2 separate regions of the Homo sapiens genome follow, and region 1 is linked to region 2. The links come from fine-mapping of genetic effects on gene expression. Tissue or cell type: subcutaneous fat. Region 2 holds a variant in brackets; the other region holds the start of a gene. All regions are shown on one strand. Distances are from middle to middle.

Region 1 (8,000 bases), 84 kb before region 2:
GTGTGTCCTTGTGCAGGGGACTTCTGAACTCTAGGCCTGAGTCTCCTCATCTGTAAAATGGGCCTGATGACATCCCTGCCTGGCACACGTAGGTGACTGATAAATATGTGTTTAATGACCGAATACTTTCCCCCTGTGGTTGGTTTGAGGAGTCAGGTACCATCCAGCTGTCCTGTTCCCCTACAACTGTTCAATAAATATTACCCAAGTACCTGCATCCAGCCAGGCCCTGGGATGGGTGCTCGGAAACTGTTATTACATCATCATCACCACCACCATCATCATCACCACTATCACCACCATCATCACCACTATCACCATCACCATCATCACCACTATCACCACCATCATCACCACTATCACTATCATCACCACCACCATCACCATCACCACCACCACCACTATCACCATCATCACCACCACCATCACCACTATCACCATCATCACCACCACCACCATCATCATATCACCATCATCACCACCATCACCACCACCACCATCACCACCATGACCACCATCATCACCACCATCACCATCACCACCACCACCACCACGACCATCATCACCACCACCACCATCACCACCACCACGACCATCATCACCACCACCACCATCACCACCACCATCACCACCACCACCATCACCACCACCATCACCACCACCACCATCACCACCACCACCATCACCACCACCATCACCACCACCACCATCACCACCACCATCACCACCACCACCATCACCACCACCATCACCACCATCACCACCACCACCACCATCACCACCATGACCACCATCATCACCACCATCACCACCATCACCATCACCACCACCACGACCATCATCACCACCACCACCATCACCACCACCATCACCACCACCACCATCACCACCACCATCACCACCATCACCACCACGACCACCATCACCACCACCACCATCATCACCACCATCACCACCACCAGTCATCACCATCACCACCACCAACACCACCACCATCACCATCATCACCACCATCACCACCACCATCATCACCATCACCACCATCACCACCACCACCACCATCACCATCACCACCACCATCACCATCGTCACCACTACCATCACCATCACACCACCACCATCACCATCACCACCATCATCACCATCACCACCACCACCATCACCATCACCACCACTACCATCACCACCACCATCACCATCATCACCACTACCATCACCATCACCACCACCATCACCACCACCACCATCACCATCATCACCACTACCATCACCATCACCACCACCATCACCATCACCACCATCATCACCATCATCACCACCACCATCACCATCACCACCATCATCACCACCACCATCACCACCACAGTCATCACCATTATCACCACCACCATCACCACCATCATCACCATTACCACCATCACACCATCATCATCATCATCACCATCATCACAGGCTGATGAGTGTTGGGGAGAGGCTGAGCCCCTCATGAGCAGACAGGCCCATGTGTGGCTGAGATACAGGACTGGCTGCAGGGAGGAGGTATGAGGGGACCGAGTCTGAGACTGGGGTGAGAGGCAAGGAGCACCCAGTTCCAGCGAGGGAAGGGAACATCCTGCTCCCGTAGGGACAAAGGACCCAGTGGCAGGCAGGCAAAGGCAGGGAGAGTGAGGGGCGCAGGACTCACGTAGGCAAGGGTGGGGGTGCCGGGGCGTGGCAGGCCGCCAGGGCCAGTCTCGATGGGACGGGCGGCAGCTCTCGCACCCCGGGCCAGTGGTATGGTGGCGGCAGTGGCAGCGGGGGGGCCGGGCACGGGCGGCACAGCGGGCAGCGTGGCCATGACACTGGCAGCGGCCTCTCAGCCCAGCTGCCGCTAGCCCGGCCTGGCCCCCAAACTCCACACGGAGGTGGCTGGCCGCCACAGTGGCCTTAGGACCTGGTGTGGAGTGGAAGGTCACCCTTTCAGGGCCCCCTAAGGCCCCAGGCCAGGCGGGCCTGTGCCACAGCAGCCTCCAGGGACCCCCTGAGGCCCAGGCAGCAGACAGGATGAGGGCTGGGGGTCCTGGGGTACAGAAGCGCAAGCTGACAGATGTCAGGAGGAAGGGGCCACCCAGGGCCAAAGTCAGGCTGCCATTGCAGGTTTCCCTGGCGCCAAGGTGGTTTCCTGGGGACAGGGCACAGGCCTGAGGGCAGGAGGCCGCCACGGCAGCCAGCTGTGTCACTGGCGGGAGGCAGAATTGGGGGCGGCCCTGTGGATCGTAGCATGGGTCCGCAGTGGCCTGGCCCAGGAGGAGCAGGAGGGCAAAGGTCACGGGCATGGTCACAGCAGAGCCAGCACCTGGAGGGAAGAGAGGTGGCTGGGCTGGGGATCTCAGCCGCAGCCTCTACCCCTCCTGGAGGTGTCCTGTGGAACTGGGGCATTCCACCCCCAACCCGTCCAGGCCCCCTCCCCGGCTGCATGGAAGCGAGGAAAATAGTTCCATCTGGGGAGAATTACTGTTTACATAACCCAAAGGGGAAAGAACGCAGACAAAATCGAGAATTTTGCCTGAACTAATCCGTAGCTTAACACCCCAGAGTTATCCGTCAGTGTCGAGGGGCAGGGGGCCCTGGGGAGCGGTGAGCGGCTGGAGCAGAGGGGCTGGCCAAGGCCAGCAGACGTGGAAACCTAGAGAGGGACACAGAGACAAGCAGGGCTGGGCAGGAGAGGGGGCTTAGGGACAGATGAAGACTCAGTCACAAAGAAATAGAGGACAGGACAGAGGCAGAGAGAGGACAGTCAGCCTAGGGGAGGCGCTCGGCACAGAGAAGTTGCTGCAAAGACAGAGGAACAGACAGGAGGCTGAGAGGCTGAGACAGAGGCCAGGCACCCAGAGGCCACAGGGAGCTGGGAGACTGAGGCTCGGACTGCCTGGGGGCTGGGATAGGTGGGCAGGTGGGCTCAGAGACACCCAGCCTGGCAGGCCCTGGGGAGGGGAGGGAAGGGGACAGGCTAGGGGTGTCTGGCGGGGGATCAGAAGTGAGAGACCGAGGCCCAGGCCTGCAGGGATCAGAGCCATTGCCTTTCCCACATGGGGCCCTAACCTTGTTCTCCACACCCTGGGCACGGAAGGGGATTATCACCAAACAACCCAGCCTCCCTGCCACCCGCCCACCCACCCCCAGCGCCCCACCCTTAACCCTTTCCCACCCGAGTGCAAAGCCCAGAGAGCTGAGCTGAGGAAAGGGATGCTGGGAGCTGGAACCTGGGTGGCTCTGGGGCTTGGGAGCGGGACAGTGGGATCCCCATGGGGTCAGGGGAAGCAGACACCTGGGTTCCCTTCAGAACTCAGGGTGTGGGGACCGGAAGTTAGCGTTCTGGGACTTTCTGCTCACCTCAACCCTGCCCTCTATTCTGGGCCTCAGGGCCTGGAGACCAGAGTCCCCACATTCTCCACCCATCCAGAGTTCCCCAGAGCAGATGGGGGAACAGATGTTGGGGGCGGTGGGTAATGAGGAGGAGAGAGGCAGGAAGGCAGGAGCTGGGACAGGGTGGGGTGCCAGATGCCAGGGCGCCCGTGGGGGCAGAAGCCCAGACCCTAGGAATGGCAGGAGCTGGGAAGGACTGGACTCTGAAATGCCCCCACTTTCCCCTTCCAGGGCCAGCAGCCTCTGGTGAGGAGCTCACTGTGGACTGGGGGCCTCGGAGCCTTTCCAGGCCCTTGGCTCTGAATCTGCGCCCAGGAATGTCCCTGGGCTGGGCATCTCTGGGGCACCCTGGCGGTTGAGGTGGGCCACACCTGCCCCAGCCTGGCCTCACTGCCCATGTCCCCACTGCTGTTGGCCACATGCAGACGCTGCCTCCCCTGGCCCAGATGACAGGCCTCGCCCTCCGCCCTCCCAAGGAGCCTGGCGCCATTTTGCACCCACTCAGGTGGCAGCCGCCTGCCTGGCCCTCAGCAGCATCCTGTTAAGGGCCAGTCCCCCATGTCCCCTTTCTCTCTGGATAGTTGCTGGATAGTTCAGGGGGTGGCACCCTCTGGCCCTTAGCACCTTGAGGAACCAGGCTGTGAGTTCCCTAGTGTTCCTGGGGGATCCAGAAACCAGTCGTGGCCCACAGAGAGCCCATACCCCTCTTTAAGAAAGAGTCCAGCCATGCTCCCAGCAGACTCATAGGAGGCCTGCCTGGGCGGCCTGGGGTCCATCTGGGACCCAGGCTTCCTTTCCCTGGCTCTTGGCATGCACCCCCCAACCCGAGCCCTGAGGCCCCGACATTGGCCAAACCTGCACTCAAGAAGAGAGCGTCCTGCAGCCAGTTCCCCGCAGGCTCTTCCTCCAAGCTGTGGCGCGGTGGGCTCTCAGGAGGGAGTGGCGTGGCTGTTCTCAGGCCCCAGGCTAGTGGGGTTTCTGGGCTGGGCGGGGGCTCAGAGCAGAGCCCGCAGAATCTAACACCGCCACCCCCCTCCCACCCCAATCCCTCACCAACCGCAGCCACGCTATCCCCACAGGGACCCCTGCCAGCCAGGCCACCCGCAACGGTGTGGGACGTGAGTGCCGTTGCCCCCGGCGGTCCAGCAGCAGGACAGCCCCGAGCAGCCTGGCCTAGGAGGCTCACCGCAGGTAGGACGGGAGGCTGTCAGTCGGGGGTCCCGCTCCATCCCACTCCACCCCTGCCCACTGGCTCAGCCCCGCCTTGTGGTGGCCGCCATCGCGATCGGGCAGGGGCTGACCTTTGGGAGACAATCGCTGTTGGAAACTTTGCTCAGCCCCTGCCTCTGGCTGCGTGACCCCAAGCCAGCCCCTCCTCCTCCTCTCTGGAACCTTTTGTCAGCTGTGGGTTCACCGAGCCTTAAGGTCAGTAAAATCTGTGCTCTTGGAAGGTTCAGACCAGCCCCTGGAATTCAAAAGACCTCAGTCGCTTTCTAAGATGGTGGGGAAGGCGACAAATGAGCTGAGAACACCTGGGCCCCAGTGTTTCTCATGCGGCAGAGGGAGAAGGCGGGGACCCCCGGGGTGCGGGGGACCAAGCTCAAAAGCACCTCCCCAGTGCCGCTGGTGTCCTGCGAGTCCTCAGTGCTTTCATCGTGACATTTTCATGCGAATGTTGCTGTCTGTTCTATTCCATCTCCGAATGGGTTGACTAGAAAAATAATGTTTTCTGTCACTTCCCGCTGAGAAAAGCAAGGGCCTCATGGAGTTGGGGCGCGGCACCTGCTGCCCTGGGTGGCCCCAGCGTTTATCGTGGTGTAGCGTGGGCCCAATCCTGACAGGCTTGGGACCCACTGCCCCAGGCCCGCCCCCAGGGGGTGCGAGGGCACAGCAAAGGCGACCCTCGACTCTGGACCCTTAGGTACCACGTTGGAGGGGGCCAGATTTGGCAGGAGCAGGACAGGGACATCGGATTTGAAAGAAGGGAGTCACTCCGAAAGCTGGGAGGTGCATCAGCTGCAGGAGGATGGAATGGGGCTGAGACGCCCCCCATCAGAGGGGGCATGTCAGAGCTGGGGGCCCAGGCTGTGTGAGTCAGAGTGGAACTTCGGGATTCAGGCGCAGGTCCCTCCGCTGACCCTGCCTGAGCTCCCCCTGTATGGGACTTTGCCGGGGGTTCGCGCTGGGAACACAGACCCCTGCCCCATCAGGCTCAGTGTCCAGAGAGGGAGGGGGAGACCCCAGCAGCGCAGGTCCTTCTGTGCTCTAGGTTGTTGGAAGGTGCCAAGTGCCTTGGAGCAAAGCAAGTGGGGGGGGCGGCCACGGGGGCCCGGGGATTGCAGATGTAAGTGGGGTGATGCGGAGGGGCATTTGTGCTGAGCCCACCGCCAGCACAGAACCCAGCTTTGCTGCCACACAAAACTGAGGAAGAAGGCTTAGGTCTCGCTGCGTCTTCCTCCCCACCTGGGCGAAGTCTCAAGCTCCGGCTCCTGGAGGGAAGCTTTTGTTCCTTGCAGCTTGAGCTGCCTGAGTTGATGGGCGCCCCTGCGGGTGCCCGGGGGCAGGCGGGGAAGAACAGACGGAGCTGCCACAGCCGAGCACATAGTGCCCCAAGCTGGGAAGGAGACTGTTTTTTTTGTTGGGGAGAGTTCTTTAAGGGCTGGAGACCTTCACCCTCACAGCTTCTACAGAAGGCCAGGCCTGCCCAAGGCACATCTCTGAGGTGGGTTCAACCCAGAGAGAACCTCAGTGCTGGGCTCACACAGACCTCTAACCCCTGCCTTGGTGGCCCAGATATAACGGAGTCTCCACGAGGCAGGGCAGGTCACCCGCAGGAGTTACTGGGCATTGTGTGGCTGGGTAGGGCCTGCCCTCCCGGACATGTTCAAAAAGGCCAGGATGGTAACCCCAGCCATACTGCCTGGGTTCAAATCCACCTCTGTCCTAGCTGTGTGACCGAGAACAAGCTTCTTAACCTCTCTGTGCCTTCATTTCCTCATCTGTTAAATGAGGAAGAAAGAATGGACCTTCCTCATGGTGGGCGGAGGGGGTCATGAGGACTGAATGAGCTGACATGCCCACGGGTTCTTATCTGAGCTCTCTGGGAAAGTCGTGTTCCGGAACCTTCTGCTTCCTGGCCCTGTTGTCGGATGCATAGTACGTACGTGACATGGCATCCATGGTAGGTCTGGGCCGCATCACATTGTCAAACATGTTATGTTTTAGGCAGCAGAGCACATGGGTGTTCACAGTAAGAGAAGTAAAGTCTGCAAATAGCCACATGACCCTCCTCCAAGCCAGGGTTGTCCCCAGATGAGTTCAGTCCAGGTTGGCGTTTGCCGCTCCCCCTGAGGAAAATGGCTGACAAGGAATCGCGGACCAGGACAGCCAGCCCCGTGATGGGCCTGCCCGCCAGCACCCTCGCAGCCTCGGCCTTGGCTGGTGCTTTTCTGCGGCTTTCTGGTTGTCTAGGCTGAGAACAGCCACAAGAGGGAGCACCTGAGATTCCAGGAGAAGCCAGAGCAGCCGCGGTACCCACTGCTTGATCTGCAGGGCCTGGGGGAAAATGCAGACACAGGACCCCTTGTTTAGAATTTATGAAGGATTTTAAGACGGCAACACCAGATCATTAAAGCAAGCGTGGGGCCTGTCTCAGCGCAACTGCACGAGTCACACAAAATGAAGGCGGACCCCGCGGGGGGCACCCTTGTCCTGAGCTGGTTTCCCTTGGCCAGTGACCCAGGCTCCTGTCCCTGCCCTGCACCCCCACTGACCCCAGCTCTAGCCTTGGGACCTGCCTGGGGGCTCCAGCTGGGCTCAGAGCTCAGCTCCTTCTCCGTGGGGCAGGACCCTGAGTTGAGTGGATGGCAAGATCATGTTTGGGACACAGTTTTCACCAGCTCAGTGAAAAAAGGCTTGGGCAGATTTAATTCACTTTTTGCAAACTAAAGCAGCACCAGGAGCATTTTTCTTAGGCCTTAGGCCAGCTGGCCTTGCTGGGGACCCACACGAGACTTTCAAGGAGGGCCCCAGAGTGTTCAGGCTTCTCAGAAGGGTCAGATGAACCAAATGAGGAGCCCTGGAATAGAGGAGGATGACAGCTGAAGAGGCCTGGAGGGCCCCAGATTGTTCAGGCTTCTCAGAAGGGCCAGATGAACCAAATGAGGAGCCCTGGAATAGAGGAGGATGACAGTTGAAGAGGCCTGTAGGCCCCCGATGTTTAAGAGGACAGGCGGAGGGAGAGATGGGGAGCCGGGAGGGGTGAGGCAGAAGCCAGAAGTTTTAGGGGTGAGCCCATGCCAACCAGGGCTTCAGCAGGAATGGGGTGGGAGGGAGGGGGTGAAGGGATGACTGCTGAGCTGTAGCCATTGGAGTGGCCACAGGGAAACCATAGGACATTGGTCAGAGGAGTGGACAAGGGGAGAAGAGAAAGCCGATCAGGACATGGTAGAGGCTGGGAGCAGAGGACCTTCTGGGAGCCCTGGGGAGAGCTGGAGGAGACTCGGAAAGAGCAGCCCCCGGAGAAGGGACCATCCATCCCACGGCGAGGACCGGGACCGAGGTCCTTGGAGCCCAGTCAGGCCCAGTGGTCAGGG
Region 2 (8,000 bases):
CCTGGTTCTGAAGGAGTTGTTCCTGGGTCCCAGGAACAACTGAGTGGGGCAGTCCCCACTTACCCGAGCTGCTTGCAGGTGGCAGATCCACAGTCCGCTTTTCGTGGCCGGAGCGCACCCTCCGCAAAGGCAGGCCACATCCGGCCGCCCCTGGAACGCCAGGCGTCCGGCTATCCGGCCCGGCAGCCCTCCCCTCCGCGCAGCCTGTCCGGACTGGCAGCGAGGGCTTGGGGAGGAGAGGAAGGAGAGGGCGCGGCCGGGAGTCTCGCAGCGTCCGCCCTCCCGGGCCGGGCGGATGGCTGGAAGGTGGAGCCCCGCCCGTCACTTGGCGCCGAGCCCCAGCGCCAGGGGCTAAGGCGATGGCCCCTGGGCCCACCGCTCCCCAGATCGGGGATGCAGGGGACCGCGCCCTGCCCCTCCGCCCCGTCATTGACCTGCGCGAAGGCTTCACCCAGGGCAGGCTACCTGGCTTCTGAGCAGCCGCAGCATCATTGCGTGGACCAGGAGACGGAGCGCCCAGTTGCAATGCTGGAGCCGGGAGGTCCAATCCGCCGCCCTCTCTCTTCCGGTGCCAGGGCTTAGAGTCGGCCCCCGACACCTGGGTGCTTCGAGCCTGGCCACGCCCCAGCGGCTGGGCAGGGCCCCCGCACCTGGTCCCGGCGAGTGGAGCGATCGTCCGCCCTCTGCCGCGTCCTCCTGGGGGATGGAGAACCTGTTTGCCAGGCTGCCGCCGGAGCGCGCGAGGGCCTCCAGCCTGCAGGTGCTCCCGCGCCCACCAGGGTCTCCGATCTCCCACACCCCCCGCCTCACCGTCCACACTCAAATTCCAGAATCCCAGCCCCTAGTCACTCCTTTTGGGGAATTCTAGGGTCCCGTGCCAAACTGCTACTTTCCAGACCTGCACTGCACGAAGGCAACCATTCCAAGGCTGGAGACCGGAGTGGAACAGGGTCTGTTTCCCACGCCGTCAGCGGGGGCCGTGGCTGCCGGCGCCAGAGACAAAGGCCTCTGCCCGCTTGTCACCTAATTAAAGCATTTTCTCTGGTCCAAGGCCCACCTCCAGCATCGCCAACCCCGAGCAGGGCAGGCTAACGTAGGGTCCAGCCCTACGGGGCTTTGCGGGTGGGTGTTCTTCCCCTGTGAGGAGAGGAGAGATTGTAAGAAATAAAGACACAAGACAAAGAGATAAAGAGAAAACAGCTGGGCCCGGGGGACCACTACCATCAAGACGCAGAGACCGGTAGTGGCCCCGAATGGCTGGGCGCGCTGATATTTATTGTATACAAGACAAGGGGGGGCAGGATAAGGAGGGTGAGTCGTCCAAATGACTGATAAGGTCAAGCAAGTCACGTGATCATGGGACAGGGGGCCCTTCCCTTTTAGGCAGCCGAAGCAGAAAGAGAAGGCAGCATATGTCAGCGTTTTCTTCTCTGCACTTATAAGAAAGATCAAAGACTTTAAGACTTTCACTATTTCGGGCGGGCGCGGTGGCTCACGCCTGTAATCCCAGCACTTTGGGAGGCTGAGGCGGGCGGATCACAAGGTCAGGAGGTGGAGGCCATCCTGGCTAACACGGTGAAACCCTGTCTCTACTAAAAATACAAAAAATTATCCGGGCGCGTGGTGGAGGGCGCCTGTAGTCCTAGCTATTTGGGAGGGTGAGGCAGGAGAATGGTGTGAACCCAGGAGGCGGAGATTGCAGTGAGCCGAGATCACGCCACTGCACTCCAGCCTGGGGGACAGAGCGAGACTCCGCCTCAAAAAAAAAAAAAAAAAGGCTTTCACTATTTCTTCTACCGCTATCTACTACGAACTTCAAAGAGGAACCAGGAGTACGGGAGGAAAATGCAAGAGGACAAGGAGCGTGACCATTGAAGCACAGCACAGCAGGATGACTGCGGGCAGGCCTAGATAATACCCAGCCTCCCACAAGAAGCTGGTGGAGCAGAGTGTTCCCTGACTCCTCCAAGAAAAGGAGATTCCCTTTCGTGGTCTGCTGAGTAACGGGTGCCTTCCCAGACACTGGCGTTCCCGCTTGACCAAGGAGCCCTCAAGAGGCCCTTATGCCGGTGTGACAGAAGGCTCACCTCTTGCCTTCTAGGTCACTTCTCACAATGTCCCTTCAGTACCTGACCCTATACCCACCGGTTGTTTCCTGGTTATATTAGTTATACAACAAAGAATAAAAGTAATAGCTAATGATTAATAATGTTTACACTAATGATTGATACTGTCCATGATCATCTCTATATCTAATTTGTATGATAACTATTCTTATTCTAACTATTTTCTTTATTATACTGAAACAGTTTGTGCCTTCAGTCTCTTGCCTCGGCACCTGGGTAATCCTTCCCCACAGACTGACCCTCCCATTCAAGATACATCAATGTCAAAGACTCAGGAGTTTGACTTGATTCCCAGAAGTTTAACCATCATCTCCCCAGGCTCGGGACTCCCAGCACCCAGACCCTTCTGCTCACACCCAGCAGTCCAGGCCCCCAGACCCTCCTCCCTCAGACTTAGGAGTCCAGGCTCCCGGCCCCTCCTTCCTCAGACCCAGGAGTCCAAGCCCCCTGCCCCTCCTTCCTCAGACCCAGGAGTCCAGGACCCCAGCCCCTCCTTCCTCACACCCACGAGTCCAGATCCCTAGCCCCTACTCCCTCAGACCCAGGAGTCCAGACCAAAGCTCCCTCCTCCCTCAGACCCAGGAGCCCAAGTTCCCCAGCCCCTCCTCCCTCAGATCCAGGAGTACAGGCCCAGACCCTCCTCCCTCAGACCCAGGAGTCCAGGCCCCCCACCCCTCCTCCCTCAGACCCAGGAGTCCAGAGCCCCAGCCCTCCTCCCTCAGACACAGAAGGCCTACCCTTGCACCCTTAGGGGCTCCAGGAAATTAGCCAACCTGTCTTCCCTCTGGGTGCCCACTCCAGGGCCTGGCTTGGCTGCCAACTCCAGTCAGGGACTTTCAGCCACCCCTCCCCCCAGGTTATTTCAGGAGCACCTGCCTGGGCCTGGGATGGCTTCTCTGGTGAAAGAAACACCAGGATTGCATCAGGGAGGAGGAGGCTGGGATGTCCAGGGTCTGAGCATCTGAGCAGGGACAGATGAGGTTGAGGTTGGCCCACGGCCAGGTGAGAGGCTTCCAAGGCAGGATACTTGTGTCTCAGATGCGGTCGCTTCTTTCATACAGCAATTGCCGCCTTGCTGAGGATCAAGGAACCTCAGTGTCAGATCACGCCCTCCCCCCAAACTTAGAAATTCAGATGGGGCGCAGAAATTTCTCTTGTTCTGCGTGATCTGCATAGATGGTCCAAGAGGTGGTTTTTCCAGGAGCCCAGCACCCCTCCTCCCTCCGACTCAGGTGCTTGAGACCCCAGATCCTTCTCTCTGAGACTCAGGAATGTGGGCCCCCAGCCCCTTTCACCTGGGTCCCAGCTAACCCGATCCTCCCCTCCCTCATCCCCTAGACCCAGGAGTCTGGCCCTCCATTGAAAGGACCCCAGGTTACATCATCCATTCAGGCTGCCCTTGCCACGATGGAATTCTGTAGCTCCTGCCAAATGGGTCAAATATCATGGTTCAGGCGCAGGGAGGGTGATTGGGCGGGCCTGTCTGGGTATAAATTCTGGAGCTTCTGCATCTATCCCAAAAAACAAGGGTGTTCTGTCAGCTGAGGATCCAGCCGAAAGAGGAGCCAGGCACTCAGGCCACCTGAGTCTACTCACCTGGACAACTGGAATCTGGCACCAATTCTAAACCACTCAGCTTCTCCGAGCTCACACCCCGGAGATCACCTGAGGACCCGAGCCATTGATGGACTCGGACGAGACCGGGTTCGAGCACTCAGGACTGTGGGTTTCTGTGCTGGCTGGTCTTCTGCTGGGAGCCTGCCAGGCACACCCCATCCCTGACTCCAGTCCTCTCCTGCAATTCGGGGGCCAAGTCCGGCAGCGGTACCTCTACACAGATGATGCCCAGCAGACAGAAGCCCACCTGGAGATCAGGGAGGATGGGACGGTGGGGGGCGCTGCTGACCAGAGCCCCGAAAGTGAGTGTGGGCCAGAGCCTGGGTCTGAGGGAGGAGGGGCTGTGGGTCTGGATTCCTGGGTCTGAGGGAGGAGGGGCTGGGGGCCTTGGCCCCTGGGTCTGAGGGAGGAGGGGCTGGGGATCTGGACTCCTGGGTCTGAGGGAGGAGGGGCTGGGGATCTGGGCCCCTGGGTCTGAGGGAGGAGGGGCTGGGTCTGGACCCCTGGGTCTGAGGGAGGAGGGGCTGGGGGTCTGGACTCTTGGGT[T/G]TGAAGGAGGAAGGGCTGGGGTCCTGGACTCTTGGGTCTGAGTTGGGAGGGGGCTTTGGCTTGGGCTTCTCCTGGGTCTGAGGGAGGAGGTAGGCTGTGGGCTTGGACTCCCAGGGCTGGGACAGAGCCGGATGGTGGGACAGAGTCGGGTGGTGGGACAGTCCCGGGTGGGAGAGGTCCTCGAACCACCTTATCGCTTTCACCCCTTAGGTCTCCTGCAGCTGAAAGCCTTGAAGCCGGGAGTTATTCAAATCTTGGGAGTCAAGACATCCAGGTTCCTGTGCCAGCGGCCAGATGGGGCCCTGTATGGATCGGTGAGTTTCCAGGACCCTCCTCACCACCCACCATGCTCCTCCTATATGTCGCCCTCACAGCCTGGGGTGCCTTGTCTTGCTCATCCCCCCCGGAGCCAGACTTGATTCTATTTGCTCTGCACGCCCCCAGCTGCAACATTTGGAGGTTGAAGTTGTCATCAGTGTTTGCAAGATGAGGAAACTGAGGCCCAGGCCGGGGCGCCAGTGACCTCAATCATGTGATGTGTGGATGCTGGAGCGGCCTGAGGCTCAGGTTATTGGGAGTCTCGTGATTCAGTAACCCCTGCTCCTGCCCACACGGCCCCTGTGTGCACGGCTCATGCTGGGCACAGGGACACTCGGGGAAGCCATGGCCAGTAAAGTGACCAGGACCTTGAGTGCTAGGGAGACACCCCGCCTGGCCTGAGAGAGCACTGATGGCTCCGAGGGCTGGAATGTTCTCTGTGAAGTCTGAACTGGGAGGCAGGTCCCTGCAGGAGAGCCCTGGGGTAAAAAACAAAACCTGCCTTGCTGTTTTGTTTCCTAGAGGAGGGGCTGGGGGCCTGGACTCCTGGGTCTGAGGGAGGAGGGGCTGGGGGCCTGGACCCCTGGGTCTGAGGGAGGAGGGGCTGGGGCCTGGAACCCCGGGTCTGAGGGAGGAGAGGCTGGGGCCTGGAACCCCGGGTCTGAGGGAGGAGAGGCTGGGGCCTGGAACCCCGGGTCTGAGGGAGGAGGCGCTGGGGGCCTGGACTCCTGGGTCGGATGGAGGAGAAACTAGGGTCTGGACCCCTGGGTCTGAGGGAGGAGGCGCTGGGGGCCTGGACCCCTGGGTCTGAGGGAGGCAGGGCTGGGGCCTGGATCCTGGGTCTTACATCAGGAAAACAGAGGAACCCTGTCTCTGATCCTGTTTTTGTCCCCTAGCTCCACTTTGACCCTGAGGCCTGCAGCTTCCGGGAGCTGCTTCTTGAGGACGGATACAATGTTTACCAGTCCGAAGCCCACGGCCTCCCGCTGCACCTGCCAGGGAACAAGTCCCCACACCGGGACCCTGCACCCCGAGGACCAGCTCGCTTCCTGCCACTACCAGGCCTGCCCCCCGCACTCCCGGAGCCACCCGGAATCCTGGCCCCCCAGCCCCCCGATGTGGGCTCCTCGGACCCTCTGAGCATGGTGGGACCTTCCCAGGGCCGAAGCCCCAGCTACGCTTCCTGAAGCCAGAGGCTGTTTACTATGACATCTCCTCTTTATTTATTAGGTTATTTATCTTATTTATTTTTTTATTTTTCTTACTTGAGATAATAAAGAGTTCCAGAGGAGGATAAGAATGAGCATGTGTGAGTGTCTGAGGGAAGACATGGCAGCTGTTTTGTCTCCCTTGGCCCGGACAATCCCCTCTACACCTCCCCTCACGTGGTCCGAGGGTCCTGGCTTCCCACTGGGCCTCACTTTTTTCTTTTCTTTTCTTTTTTTTTTTTTGAGACGGAGTCTCGCTCTGTCACCCAGGCTGGAGTGCAGTGGCGCGATCTTGGCTCACTCCAACCTCCGCCTCCCAGGTTCAAGCAATTCTCCTGCCTCAGCCACCCGAGTAGCTGTGATTACAGGCGTGCGCCACCACACCCAGCTAATTTTGTAATTTTAGTAGAGACAGGGTTTCGCCATGTTGGCCAGGATGCTCTCCATCTCTTGACTTCATGACCTGCCTGCCTTGGCCTCCCAAAGTGCTGGGATTACAGGCTTGAGTCACTGTGCCCAGCCCAGCCTCACTTTTCTACTCTGCTAAAGTGTCCCCAGGGACTGTGGACTATCCCTGCTCTCTGAAAGGACAAGACTGGCCGGGAGTGGTGGCTTACGCCTGTAATCCCAGCACTTTGGGAGGCCGAGGCAGGTGGATCACGAGGTCAGGAGATTGAGACTATCCTGGCTAATACGATGAAACCCCGTCTCTACTAAAAATACAAAAACAAAATTAGCTGGGCGTGGTGGCGGGCGCCTGTAGTCCCAGCTACTCCGGAGGCTGAGGCAGAATGGCGTGAATGCGGGAGGCGGAGCTTGCAGTGAGCCGAGATCGCGCCACTGCACTCCAGCCCAGGCCACAGAGCGAGATTCCATCTCAAAAAAATAAATAAATAAATAAATAAATAAATAAATATAAAAATAAAATGAAAGAGCAGGACTTCTTTCTACAACCCCTCAACTTGTGTGAGCGTTGTGTAACTATTTCATAGAGCTACCTCGATAACAGGGGAGCTTTTACGAGGTGACACAGCACACTCACATCCTCATGGGAGATGTAGTTTTCTGGCATCATTTAGCAGCAGGAATGAGATCTGTTGGGCCTCAAATCTGGGACAAGGACTCCTGGGTCCTGGAGTAGGTTTGGGGCTAGTGTAACACCCAAGTTCTGGGGAATCAGTGGGCTGGACATCTGGACACCTGGATCACAGGAGAACTGGGGACTGCAGACTTAGGCATCCTGGTCTGAGAAAAAAGGGGCTGGAGGGTGGGAGTTTGGGTTCTCAGGAAAAGGAGCTGAAACCTGGAATTCTTCCATCTGGGTCCTTATGAACTTTTTAATATTTATTTATTTATTTATCTTATTTTGTTTTTTTTCTGAGATGGAGTCTCGCTCTGTCACCAGGCCCAAGTGCAGTGGCACAATCTCGGCTCCCTGCAACCTCCGTCTCCTGGGTTCAAGCGATTCTCCTGCCTTAGCCTCCCGAGTAGCTGGGACTACAGACAAGCGCCACCACACCCGTTTGTTTGTTTGATTGCTTGTTTGTTTGTTTTGAGACAGAGTTTCCCTCTTGTTGCCAAGGCTGGAGTGCAATGGCACAATCTCGGCTCACCACAATCTCCGCCTCCCGGCTTCAAGTGATTCTCCTGCCTCAGCCTCCCGAGTAGCTGGGATTATGGGCATGCGCCACCATGCCCAGATAATTTTGTATTTTTAGTAGAGATGGGGTTTCTCCATGTTGGTCAGGCTGGTCTCGAACTCCCCACCTCAGGTGATCCGCCCGCCTCAGCCTCCCAAAGTGCTGGGGTTATAGGCGTGAGCCACCACGCCTGGCTGCTTGTTTTTTGAGACAGAGTCTCGCTCTGTTGCCCAGGCTGGAGTGCAGTGGCACAATCTTGGTTCACTGCCACCTCTGTCTCCTGGGCTTAAGCGATTCTCAGCTCTGGAGTAGCTAGGATTACAGGCACCACCACTATGGCCAGCTAATTTTTGTGTTTTTAGTAGAGACGGGGTTTCACCATGTTGGTCAGGCTGGTCTCAAATTCTTGACCTCAAGTGATCTGCCCACCTTGGCCTCTCAAAGTGCTGGGATTACAGGCGTGAGATACTGCACCCGGCGTTTACTTTTATTTATTTGTTTGTTTGTTTGTTTATTTTTGAGACAGAGTCTCTCTCTGCCACCCA

What was found. PIP is the estimated chance that this variant, and not a neighbour inherited with it, causes the effect.
Region 1: NTN5 starts here. The variant in region 2 is fine-mapped to the expression of NTN5 in subcutaneous fat (FUSION, PIP 0.90).

Annotation. Positions count from the first base shown.
Region 1 is chr19:48,668,672-48,676,671 of GRCh38, forward strand. NTN5 (netrin 5) reads right to left here and starts at 4,346. Exons shown (of 7, transcript NM_145807.4): 1 at 4,261-4,346; 2 at 1,685-2,335. The coding sequence starts at 2,315. It overlaps LOC105372431 (a long non-coding RNA gene), which reads right to left. Exons shown (of 3, transcript XR_936016.3): 2 at 6,570-6,960; 3 at 4,475-5,116. It also overlaps the pseudogene SEC1P. RefSeq lists enhancers at 5,903-6,551, 6,552-7,199 and a silencer at 6,825-6,974.
Region 2 is chr19:48,752,427-48,760,426 of GRCh38, forward strand. FUT1 (fucosyltransferase 1 (H blood group)) reads right to left here and starts at 215. Exons shown (of 2, transcript NM_001384359.1): 1 at 64-215. FGF21 (fibroblast growth factor 21) reads left to right here and starts at 3,098. Exons shown (of 4, transcript NM_019113.4): 1 at 3,098-3,358; 2 at 3,465-4,045; 3 at 4,500-4,603; 4 at 5,504-5,904. The coding sequence starts at 3,811. The coding sequence ends at 5,794. RefSeq lists a silencer at 252-301, enhancers at 417-1,003, 2,320-3,185, 3,186-4,049, promoters at 2,701-6,240, 2,810-3,778, 2,936-3,542, 2,974-3,065, 3,011-3,778 and cis regulatory regions at 2,822-3,382, 3,017-3,029, 3,057-3,065, 4,873-4,879. The variant T/G (reference allele first, on the strand shown) is at 4,290.